Linked DNA regions of Homo sapiens: regions 2 and 3 are each linked to region 1. Evidence: fine-mapped expression QTL. A gene starts in region 1. Each other region holds a variant in brackets. All regions are shown on one strand. Distances are from middle to middle.

Evidence for each region. PIP is the estimated chance that this variant, and not a neighbour inherited with it, causes the effect.
Region 2: its variant is fine-mapped to the expression of TGM3 in esophagus mucosa (GTEx, PIP 0.94).
Region 3: its variant is fine-mapped to the expression of TGM3 in whole blood (TOPMed, PIP above 0.99).

Annotation. Positions count from the first base shown.
Region 1 is chr20:2,293,799-2,297,995 of GRCh38, forward strand. It overlaps TGM3 (transglutaminase 3), which reads left to right and starts at 2,203. Exons shown (of 13, transcript NM_003245.4): 1 at 2,203-2,272. The coding sequence starts at 2,266. It overlaps LOC105372503 (a long non-coding RNA gene), which reads right to left. Exons shown (of 3, transcript XR_937203.3): 2 at 3,394-3,492; 3 at 2,023-2,696. RefSeq lists enhancers at 2,907-3,440, 3,441-3,973.
Region 2 is chr20:2,237,243-2,241,439 of GRCh38, forward strand. No RefSeq gene overlaps it. Among named protein-coding and RNA genes, the nearest start is that of LINC03086, 32 kb to the left of the region's middle. The variant A/T (reference allele first, on the strand shown) is at 2,422.
Region 3 is chr20:2,339,027-2,343,223 of GRCh38, forward strand. TGM3 (transglutaminase 3) reads left to right here. Exons shown (of 13, transcript NM_003245.4): 12 at 828-961; 13 at 1,408-2,053. The coding sequence ends at 1,555. Among named protein-coding and RNA genes, the nearest start is that of TGM6, 40 kb to the right of the region's middle. RefSeq lists an enhancer at 659-1,159. The variant A/G (reference allele first, on the strand shown) is at 1,691.

The sequences.
Region 1 (4,197 bases):
CCACTCAGTTTTACAGTTGAGGAAACAAAGCCTACGAGAGGTGAGGAGACTTGGCAGAGCCAAGACTGTGTGTCTTCAGGTTCCCTTTTAAGGGGAGCACCACCTCCCTGTCACCTCTGCAGCTTTCCTTGTCAGGTCATTGAAAGGAGTGCCCGGGGTCTGATTTTCCTTGGCTCCCAGGCCAACAGCAACAACCACAATAATAAGCAAAACCCCTCCTTTCCTTTAGACCACACACAGAAGCATACAGAGCACTTTCACACCCATTCATCCCATGCCATTCATGGAGCTGTCCTCCAGCTTTCTGGCAGGATGAACTTGGCGTCATGAGGCCTCGCCCAGAGTCACAGCTAGTGCCCGTGGTAGGAGCCAAGACCACACATGAGTCTCCTCTTGGGTCCAGGCTCTTTCCATGTCCCTCTCTACCCTCTGCTCTTTTCTTAGTCATCTGCCAGAGCCAACAGTGCATCCCATTCTGCCTGGCATGGGTGCACAGCCAGCTGTCTTAGAGCCCCAGAGGCCTGGGAAAGGCTGCCTCATTTAGGCGCTGACCTCCAAGGTTAAGCAAACACAGGCTCTGGAGCCATTTACATATGGGTATGAATCTCGTGGTTGGAGACTCAGGTTAATCTCTCTGTCCCCCATAAGATGGAAATAATAATAGCCCCTTTGCATAGGGTTGCTATGAAGATGAGAAAAGCTAATATATGTAAAGTGTTTAGCCAGTGCCTGCCCACAGTAAACACTAAATCAATTAGTTATTATTAGTAAGCACTAAATCGGTAGTTATGATTCCCATCTTTACAGTGATATTGATTCACTTATTCAAGAATGTGCATGTTCCAGCCACGTGTCAAGCCCTGTGCTAGATTCTGAGAAGAAGATTTGAATGATATGCAACCTGTACCTTCAAGGAGCTCAGTCTGGAGATGGGGACATATATAAACAGATAGTTCCAGTGCAGTGGATACATACGGTAATAGAGGTTCTAAGATGTACAAAAGGCTGTAGGGGCCTAAAGGACGGAGAAAGGACACTGATTTCTCTTTTTCAATTTTCCAAGCCACCTGCCTATTCCGTCTTCTCTTTCTCGAGATCAAACATTCTCACTTCTCTCTAAAGACCCAACCTTGTCATCATGGTGCTCAATCTTCCTTCCACACTGTGATGCTGGGGAAAGCCTTGGGGCATTTCTGTTCTCTCGTGAATCCTTGAAGCCTCACTTTAAAAAATATATACTCACTCCTTTGTCCATCGTAAACCTTGATATTTGTAAATATCGATAATAGGAACTTTGAAAAAACATACGCCCTTAGAAACAAGCAAGCAAACAAAAACACGTAGAATGTCAGAGCTTCTCCCCACTCCACACCCTTTCTTTAAACTGATGTCAAGGTGGGCCCAGTGAGGGTCAGTGACGGAACCTGCAGTCTGAGAAAGACATGGCAGAAGCATAAGGTTAGAGGCTGTTCCTGCTGCCTCATTAAAAACAACAATTTTCCCCCAAATCTGGACTGAAACTGACATTCAACGCCAAGTGTGATCTCAGTTTAACCTGCCCTGGTAGATATGCATACACTTCCCATGCGCACCATCTCATGTGATCGTGTCCACAGCTTTGTGAGTTGAGAGGGGTGGGAGTGATTATCCCCAACCACAAGCAAGGCTTCCGGGCTTCAAGGGTTGGAGACCACCCAGGGCTCGGCCAGCATCAGAACCAACGGCTTCTAATTCCAAATCAAATGATGGTTTATGCCACACTACAACCCTAAACAAATGAACTGTGATGTGTCTCACTTCCCTGTGCAAGTGGAAGATGCTAATACATGTGTATCATGAGAAAGGACCTCACAATTTTCTTCTTCTGGGTTCTGCTGAGACGTTTCTTTGATTCAGAGAGAACTTCCCAGGATCAGCAAGAAAAGCATGTCATCATTTCCTAAACCCTACAATCCAGGAAATAGTCCATCATTTTATAAAATTATAAAAGCGAACTATTTGAGTTTCTTTATTATCTGCCCCCTTCTCCCCAAGCTGGTCTTGTACAAACATGATGCACGTCCATTGGGTGACAAGTCTGTCGTAAGTGAAACGTTTACAGGCACTACAGGAATGACCTGGTGCCTCGCCCACTTCATTAGAATTCTAATTGGGGTGTGTAGGAGAGGATTCTATAAATGGTAAGGCAATCCTTGGCAGCCTGTCTGTCAGCACTGTCCGTGCCATTCCCAGAGGAGCCTGAGAAGAGGCAGAGGAAGGCGAAACATGGCTGGTGAGTGCATGGCATCTTCTCCATCAGGTCCTTGCCAGAAGCCTGTGCTTCCCCTGGGCCAGCCTGCCAAGCCAGAGTGTCCGGCCAGGACAGCTGCCTGCCTTGGGGGCTCTGAAGGCCAGACTTCCTATTTTAGGGTGCTAGCCAGAGGCGGCTCTTTCTCAGTGGTGGTTGGGTCCCTCTAGCATATTCTTGGGGTAGAACATCATTGGAATGTAGCTCTGAATAATGGGCAGGGTGTTCAGTGCAGCTGGACATCGCATCTCCTTAGGCAGAGGACAAGCTTTGCCTTGTTTGTGTTTGCGTTTCTTTTACACATCCGTCGCCACCCGTAAAGCCAAAGCAGACAGGACTCGGGTCTCGTGTTTCTCAGTGTAGCTGTATCCAGCTGTCAGCAGTGTCAGCAAAGAAGCACATCTCAGAACTACCAGGGAGTGAGAGTGGTAACATGTAAGTTGATTTGAAAGAAACCATTGTTTATTTCAAATCAACTTACTTAGGAGCATTAGGAATGCTCCTAAGTAAGCTACACATCAGAAGCATCAGACAGGCTCTGTGTAAGTGACTTGATGAGCTGAAGCCTCCCCGTAGCAGGAGCAGGTGTGCCACAAGATGTCCTGGTCCACAGGAGAGCACCAGGGAACAGGGGTTACAAAGAACAACAGGAAGTGCAGGTTCCCCCACTCTATGCTTACTGTCGAGGATATGGGCCTTTGTTAATCAGCACCCCTGCTAAGCAGCATGCTAATTATTATCTGTCTTGTGTGCTCAGCCTAGTAGGTTGACAGGGACGCCAAATCCAAACAAGATATGAGTCAAACTTGTAAAATATTGTGAATGGCGATTAGGGCTGCTGGAAGATTGGCCAAAGACATCACTGAGCCAAATGCAACAGGCAAATGCTGGCTACTTCAGAAGCCACAAAAACTGGGACAGGTGATTGCACATTAGGCCCCCTCCCCTGTCTCCCATTCCTTGCTGTAATGTACAGCATGGCTGGGATGCTAAGAAGAGGAGCTCTGGACCCTACACACTGCAGCAAGAGGGGAGGTCAGATGTCATCTAGCCCATCTCCCTCCCTCCAGGAGGTGGCTGAGGCCCAGGAAGGGGTGGAACCTTACACACAGTGAATCCATCGCAGAGCCAGCTAGGTCTCAGCAGTGCCCTTTCCACCATGTCCTGCTGCCAGAGCTGAGCTCCTACATAAGTGCACATAACATCTGGAACATAAAAAAGCAATTCTGAACCTGGCTTCTCATTTGAGCTTTGTGACCAACTGCTTGTGTGTTCTCTGCCACCCCTGAGCCTCAAGTTTTCAAGATGAAAGCTTTGAAATGAATGCGTTTTGAGGTTCCTTCCAGTACCGACTTTTCTTTCTCCACAAAAAGAAACCAGAGCCAGGGAGTGGACAGGCACGTGCCCAGCCCCCAGGAATGTGCACCTCCCATCCCTGTGCAGGACCTCCCGTGGACTCTCAGGAATGGCCTGCCCGCTGTGAGGCATGATTAAATGTCTCTGTTAACAACCAGAGATGTTCTAAAGTCACAACAGAATGAGGCTGGTGGGGAGAAAATCAATTTTGAAAAGGTGGTGGAGAGACAGGCGAATACATTCAGTCCCTTAAATTTGTCCCACTTGCAGTTCCCAGCTCAGCTCCGAGTCACTCAGCCAGGAAGTTCCCAATCAGTGTTTCTTGGATGAATGAATTTATTCACTGAACACCTAAGGGAGAAGAGCTGTGCCAGGTGCAGTGGGAAATATGGAGGTGAATGAGATGTGGTTCTGTCCTCGGTAGCTTTTAGTCTGATATTTTTTGGTACCACCGGTTTTTTAGGTGAGCAGCATGCAAGGCAGACTGTTATTAAGCTGCATGACAAATACAAAACAAGTGCTACGGGGACCAACAAGAGAAGGAGATTAGTCTT
Region 2 (4,197 bases), 57 kb before region 1:
CGAGAGCAGGGCCTTCAGAATGCCAAAGAGTTTGCGGTACTGCGGTCCCTGGTGTTCTGTGCAGATACTAAGCTAACAGGAATGTAATACAAGCACAGCAGATTGGAATGAAATAGGCCACCCACTCTCACTCCAGGCTCCTCAGTAGCTGCCCTGCCTGCTCATCCGGGGGCCCAAGGCTCACTCGGTGCCAAGGAACTAGCGTCAACTCCCCAAGAACAGCACTGCTCACTTCCCCCAGCAATTCTTCCCTGCTTTCAGAATGAAATCCACATCCATCCTCTGAGCCTCCCTGGTCTTCTGTCCCTATCACAACGTCTCTTCTGACCTCCCTATCTGCTCCGCCTGCTTTGTCAAGAACATGCCCCCAGCTTTCCCTGTCTTGAGCGTTTCCTGACACTGTCTTCTGCCTCTGTTTGTTGAAATCCCAAGACTTTTTCAAGGCCCATGAGCCATTCACAATTGTGTTCAGCTGCATATAAGAGAAGTGCTGCTATTTGGCTGAACCAAAGAGGGATTCTTTTATTTCATGCAACAAGAAGTGTGGGGACAGGCAGTCTAGGGCTGGGGTGGCAGCTCAGGAATGATTCCATCCAGGAACCAGGTTCTTTCCATGTGCTCACTCCTCTTTCTTTCTTTCTTTCTTTCTTTCTTTCTTTCTTTCTTTCTTTCTTTCTTTCTTTCTTTCTTTCTTTCCTTCCTTCCTTCCTTCCTTCCTTCTTTCCCCCCTCTCTCCCTCCCTCCCTCCCTTCCTCTTGAGACAGTGGTCTCATTCTGTCACCCAGGCTGGTGTGTAGTGGCACAATCACGACTCATTGTAGCCTCGTCCTTCTGGGCTCCAGCAATCCTCCCACCTCAGCCTCCTCAGTAGCTAGAACTACGGGCTCACTGCACCCTCTGCCTCCCAGGTTCAAGCGATTCTCCTGCCTCAGCCTCCCGAGTAGCTGGGACTACAAGAACCCACCACCATGCCCGGCTAATTTTTGTATTTTTAGTAGAGATGGGATTTCACCATGTTGGTCAGGCTGGTCTCAAACTTCTGACCTCAGGTGATCCACCTGCCTTAGCCTCCCAAAGTGCTGAGATTATAGGCCTAAGCCACCACTCCCAGCCTCCACAGGTATGTTTTGATTTAAACTGAATTGAATTAAATGGGAGAATGATGGTATGGCTATCGGAAAGGGTGTTGGATGTAGAATTACAAAACATGAATTTGAATCCTGATATGACCACGTGACTTTGTGTGAATCACACGGACCTCAGTTTCTTCATCTATAAAATTAGGAGACTCAATGAAATGGTCTCAAAATTTTCTTCCAGCTTTAAGAACTTGGGGACTCTTATGAATGGAATCAATTAGCTGCATTAGGGAATTCCAAGGAGGTGGAGCCCATTCAGGCCCAATGACAGCCAGTAAAACAGGGAATGGAGAAATCCGGGCACTTCTCACTCAATCCTATAGTTTATGGGCCCAAGACAAGCCTAGAGGGGCAGAAAGGTGAGAGCTGGAAAGTAACAGGGAACTGGGCCAGACCAGCATGGATCAGGAGGCTGGAGATGAGAGGTCAGTCCTGGTGTAAATAAACAAGTGCTATTTTAAGAGGTCGCCTTTCAGGAAGCAGGAACCCTCCACTGCCCAGACATTGAAGCCCTACTGAACCTCACCTCCTAATGACAAGAGAAGGCCTCTCATTATGACTTTGGCACAGTGGCTTATGCCTGTAATCCCAGCATGTTGGGAGCCTGAGTAGGGAGGATCGCTTGTGTTCAGGAGTTTGAGACCAGCTTGGGCAACGTAGAGAGACCCTGTCTCTACAAAAAATAAAAAATTAGCCGGGCGTGGTGGGACATGCCTGTAGTCCCAGCTACTCAGGAGGCTGAGGCAGGAGGATCATTTGAGCCCAGGAGGTTGAGGCTGCAGCGAACTGTGATTCTGCCACTGCACTCAACCTGGGAAACAGAGTGAGACCCTGTCTCCAGAAAAAAGAAGAGTTCCTTTAAGTTTAGGCGAGGTAGAGCCCCACATCTGGCATCATGTATAAACTGGAATGAATAGCCAGTGTGTCTGTCTCACATTCCTATTTGGGGATAGAGCAAGACTTACGGGTTGAAGGCCCAAGCCTTCCCTTGTGTTACTTTGAGCAAGTTAATTTTCCTCTCTGGACTTCAGGTTCTCGTCTGTAAAAGACAGGCATTGGTATATAACACTGGTGTTTAAATTCTTTAGAACTGGAACAAAAACAGAACAAAAGCTTGTATAGGTTCCCGAAACAGCAAGCCATCCTCTTGGCAAGGAATCCTTCAGGATCTGTGGTGTCTCGGAAGCACCTCTGAAGACTTGGGGCCACAGTATAAAAATGACTACACTGGTGACCTTGAGCTCCCTCCCAGCTCTCTGACCCTGTGTCTTTCCTGGTTATT[A/T]TTTTTTTCCCCCACATTTCTTATCTACTGAAGACTGACGCCAAGTATTGGTGTTTCTTTTAGACGTAACTGAGTTAAGAAGCTCTCGCCATGACTCGATCACAAGCTGGCAGGTTTCGCCCCTGTACTTTGCTTGATTCAGATCCTTCCTCATTCTCTTTATTGAAGTTTTAAGTTCTTCATTTTCCCTTCCCCACCCCAATACAGGGCTTGGTTCTCAGCCCCTTTTGTCCTTACCATACACATTCATTCATGAGATGCTATGACAAATTCAGTAATTCCTATCCCTTGTCTCCAAGTTTAGTGAGTCATGAGCAGTGAAGCTGATGCTAAAAAGAAATGTCACACCTGGATGGGACTGTTGAATCTACTCAATGCCTCACCTCAGAAGTGGAAGTTGCTGACTTCAATATTTTGTTTTTGTGGTCTCTTGAGGGAAAGACCTTTTGATGCTGGCTTCACAAGTGACCTGCCAGTCCAGTTTCACTAGCGCTTACCAAGTGATAGGTAACACAGCCAAAATTTGTGATTCTCGCTTGAACCCAGGAGGCAGAGGTTGCAGTGAGCCAAGATCGCACCACTGCACTCCAGCCTGGGCGACAGAGCAAGACTCTATCTCAAAAAAAAAAAAAAACCCACAAAATTTGTGGTTCTTTATCCTCCTGTTTCAACTTATTAATAATAGTAATGATGACAATAACTACAACAACACTCAGCTATCATTTATAAAGTGTCTACAAGGCGCCAAGCACAGAGCCAGGTGCTCCACATATATTATCCTTCATTTTCATAACTTTAGAAGGCATTAATAGATATTATTGACCTTACTTTGCAAATGCATTAAGTCTCATGGAAATTAAGTTCTTTGCCCAAAGTTGCCTGGCTAATGAGAAGCAGAGCCTAGATTCAAACCCGAGTCTGTCTCATTCCAATATTCATGTTCTTTCCACCTCTCCGTGAAGAAATAGTATGCCTTTTTTGGGGTGTTGAAGATTTGTGACAATTTTGATAAGTGAAAGCAAAAAGGGAAAGAGAAGAGAAAAAGCTATTAACTTAAAATCCGTTACAACTGTACTAGGAAATTAAGTGAGAATAAATTATAAAGTCAAATCTAATTTCTGAGGGGAAGACACTGACTGACATAGATAAAAACATGTTTATGTGACCCTTAGGTAAATCGTTCCAACTCTCTGAGCCTCAGTGTTGTTATCTACAAATGGGAGAATCAAGGCACCCTCCTACAAGCGGCGGCTCATCAGCTCACTTGGAAAATGTAGTCATCTTCTCAAAGTTTTCTTTTTCTTTCTTTCTTTTTCCTTTCTTTCTTTCTTTTTCTTTCTTTCTCTCTCTCTCCTTCCTTCCTTCTTTCCTTCCCTCCCTCCCTTCCTTTTTTCTTCTTTCTTTCATTTTCTTTCTTTCTCTCTTTCTTCTTTCTCTTCCTTTCTTTCCTTCCGTCCCTCCCTTCCTTCCTTTTTTCTTCTTCCTTTCATTTTCTTTCTTTCTCTCTTTCTTCTTTCTCTTCCTTTCTTCTTTCTTTTCCTCCTTCCTCCCTTCTTTCCTTCCCTTCCTTCTTCCCTCCCTCCCTCTTTGTTTCTTTCTTTCTCTCCCTCCTTCCCTCCCTCCCTTTCTGTCTCCCTCTTTCTTTCTCTTTTTTCTTTTCCTTCCTTCCGTCTTTTTCCTCCCTTCTTTCCTCCCTCCTCCCTCCCTCCCTCCTCCCTCTTTTTCTTTCTTTCTTTCTTTTTTCTTTCTCTCTTCTTTTTTTTTTTTTTTTTTTAA
Region 3 (4,197 bases), 45 kb after region 1:
TCACTGAGCAAGGACCGTGTGGTATTAGAGCTCCGCTCAGACTATAAATGGTGCACAGGGAACCTCTGGGCTCTAGAAGTTTAGAAGGACATTGGTAGACTGGGGTGTCAGCAGAGGAGAGTAGCCTGGGTTGAGCTGGGGGGACCCAACCCCTGGAAAAAGAGTTAAGGGAGCTACAGTGTGAGCCAGGGTGTGAGCAGCTGTGGGGCCTGGGGCTGCCCTTTTCAACACCTGTGGGGCCTCCCAGAGACGGAGGTTCAAGCTTTAAGGGAAGAAACAGGACCCATAAGCAGGAAAGCCAAGGAAAGTAATATTAAACCCAGCAAGTGGCTGGGCACAGTGACTTACATCTGTAATCCCAGTGCTTTGGGAGGCCAAGGCAGGAAGATCACTTGAGGCCAGGAGTTCGAGGCCAGCCTGGGCAACACAGCAAGACCCTGTCCTTGCAAAAAATAAATTCAGCATGAAAAATGTCCTGACCCTCACAGAGCCCACAGTGGGGTTGGGCTGTCCTGGGAAGCAGGGTCTGAACTGGAGTCGGGGCAGGGAAGTAACAGTGTTGTTGGCTGCTGCAGGGGGCCCCTTCCCCCTCAAAGCTGAGGTTCTCATCCACAGCACAGGATAATGTCCTGGGACCATCCTGTGTATTGGGGGGCAGGGGGCGTCAGACACAATGTGCCTGGCACCTAGGAGGGCTAAATGGTCTCCCCTTCTTCATCCTCAGTGACATCACCCCCTTCACTCAGTCACCCTGCCCAGCCCTCACCAAGGTGCAGGCAGGGGCTGAGCAGCTGGAGTCCTGACTCGGCAGCCCCTCTCCCCCATAGGTGCTGAACGAGGCTCGTGTGCGGAAGCCTGTGAACGTGCAGATGCTCTTCTCCAATCCACTGGATGAGCCGGTGAGGGACTGCGTGCTGATGGTGGAGGGAAGCGGCCTGCTGTTGGGTAACCTGAAGATCGAGTGAGTCCTGGGCCTAAGTGGCCGGTGCAGGAGGGCGGGAGGGGGCGGGGGGGCCCTCCAGATCCCCTGGGTGGGACAGACAGAGCTCCCTCTGACCTTGGGTTCTTTACTCTTTTGGGGGTCTTGGAACTCTAGAATCTGCTTTTGCATTTGGTTTGGGGGTTCACCAAACTTGAACTCCTGAGAAGAACAGGTCACCAGAGCTAAGAGCTGGCCTTCAGGGCTTAGAATATTTGGGAGATCATGGGACCCCCCCCTCCTGCTTCCCCTGCTGAAGAGTTCCAGGGCTGGAGGGGCCCCGTAACCCAGAGAGACAGCTAGAGGGAGCTAAAGAAGCAGTGGCCTTGCCCAGCCTCCATCAGAACAGGACAGGAGGTCACAGGAGGCCCGTCCAGCCCAAGGTCCGTGTGTCTCGTATCAACACTGATCTGTGCCCTCCCCATCAGCGTGCCGACCCTAGGGCCCAAGGAGGGGTCCCGGGTCCGTTTTGATATCCTGCCCTCCCGGAGTGGCACCAAGCAACTGCTCGCCGACTTCTCCTGCAACAAGTTCCCTGCAATCAAGGCCATGTTGTCCATCGATGTAGCCGAATGAAGGGCGCTGGTGGCCTCCCGTACAAACTTGGACAACACGGAGCAGGGAGAGCTCACCATGGAATGAACCCCCCGCCCATGCTGTCCGGCCTGGGAAACCCTCTCCATCTCCCAAGGCTGCCAGACATGGACCTCC[A/G]GGCTCCAGCACATCCCCCTCTCCTCTCCCCCAGGTTGGGGCTGGGTCCACCCTGTCCTATGACTTGATCACTTTTGCACATTCCCTGGCCGCTTCTCCCCAGAGCTGCCTGCTCTGTGAGCCCCACAGCCCTGCTCATTCCTCACGCCCTTCAATGCTGCAGGATGGACTGGCCCCTGACCCAGGGACTCTCCAAACGGGATACAGGAGAGAAGCTGGTCTAGACTGTTTGCTGATCCCCAACCTGCACGGGGCATTCCTGCTTCTCTCTCAGGCCACCACAGAGGGCAGGGGATGGTTAGTCACCTGCCCCAGCACTCACACCCTAACTCAAAATAAATGTTAAATAAGTGCGATCACACAGCACCGACTCTACCTGACTGCTGTTGCACCTAAGGTGGTGAAGGAGAGAGGAGGCTGTGGCCGTGACCTTCTGGAGCAGGGAATAAATTTGAGGAGGCCATGTTCTCTGTGTTTCAATGTCCAAAGGGAGTGGGCTTGATCTGCAAGGCTGTAGATGCAAAACTAGGGAAACATTTCAAGCCAGTTTAGGAAAACTTTCTAACATGATGTCCAAAAATAGATGAGGCTGCCTTGGGAGGTAGCTCCTGGTCACAGAAGGCTTCAAACATTCTCTGTGTGGTTGGGCAAACTTTTCAGGCCTCTCTACATGCATCAGAGTGAGAGGGGACGTCACAGTTTTTGCTGGAACCCTCTGGCAGAGCTGGTCCCGGGGGTGGCCCAGCCTCTGCTCACATGGGGCTCCACGCTCCTCTTGTGGCCAGGAGCAAATGCGTCCTTCCGCCAGCCACAGCGCTGTTAACTCAACCTGAACCTTCTCTGCCTTTATACACACTCTGATGGTTCCTCAGCCTTTGTCCCTTAAAATAACCTCAAACAAATCCCATTAGCTTTCCTGTCGCTTGTGCTGACTAATCCCATTTTGACAACTCTGCCTCATTTTCTGAACTCAGGAGACAAGTAGAATCTAAATAGAAACCTCAACCTCACATCCAGCTCAAAGCTTCTCCCCTGGGTGCAGCGCAGGCCTTACTTACGCCTGCAGAGCAGGCACTGTCCATCTCTCACCTTCCTTCCCTTCCTTCCCCGAACTGGGGAGTTGCTAGATCCCTCAGAGTTGGAGCAGAGAGAGAAGAAGAAAAGTGACAGTTGTCTGTATCACTGGTGCTGATGTAATGCAGCCAATGATGGTCTCTGTGTCGCCAGTGTTTAAATGCAGGCTTTCTGTACTGCTTGTTGCCTGAGCCCAGGAGTTCAAGGCTGCAGTGAGCTATGATTGTGTCACTGTACTTCAGCTTGAATGACACAATAAGACCCCATCTCTTAAAAAAAAAAAAAAGCGGTCAGTAAATTAGGGATTTGGGGTTGAATCACTTACCATCCAGCTGCCTTGAACCCATCCTCATCCCATATTATCCCAGGCAATATGGATTGGGTACATCTGGGTGGATGCCCTCAAACGTTTTGACTTCCAAACTCCTCTGGACCCTCAGAGCCCATAGACAGGCCTGGCCTCCTTCCTATTAAGATCCAGTAACTTCTCTCCCCACCTCCTATCCCATATGGGAAGACACTGAAGAATTCTCTCTCCTGCAGCAGGGGCCCTACTCAGGATTTATTTCTGCCTCTTCTCTTGGCCTCCAGGCTGATGTCATGTTAAGTTGCAGTGTAACTCAGTTGGGGATGTGCCATATCTGATAAAGAAATAAAGAGACTATAGTCCAAAGGATCCGAAAAACTAGGATCATGTGACAGCAGGATCACGGGAGAACTCTGGGAGTGGATTTGAGGGTGCTTAATCAAGGAAGCCATAACAGGAGCCTAAACAATGAAGAATTTATTGACTTGGGGCCATTCTTTTGTGATACGAGATTTAATACCCAGGTGAGGATCCTGAGAGCTGGTGCAAACTGGCTTAGTGGCTCCAAACATCTGGAAGAAGTGATGACTTACGCTAAGTACAGTTGAAATGGCTGAATTCCTATGCTGCATGATAGAGGAAAGAATTAAAAGGCTCAGGGAAATGGGCGTGCTGGGGTTGACATATTATGAGGGGCCAGGAGACATCTTCCAAAGGATTGTGTTCCCTCAGAGGGCCCAGGGGACCCACCCACCATTCACCAAGGCCATCAGAAATGAGTAGTGACAGAGGCATCAACATCACTAAGAAATTCAGTGGTGGCATCCTCTACATTTAAAGCAAAAATAATAGCAACATTGTAGAAGTAAAATGTATGAAAATAATAACACAATGGCCAGGAAGGAAAAAAAAACACTGATGTAAATTTCTTATATAATACATGAAGTAATAAAATATTAATTGAAGATAGACTGTGACAAGTTAAAGATCTGTATTATAAACCTAAAGAAACCAGTAAAAGAAAAGAAGGCCGGCGTGGTGGCTCACACCTGCAATCTCAGTACTTTGGGAGGCCAAGATGGGTAGATCACTTGAGGCCAAGAGTTCAAGACCAGCCTGGCCAATA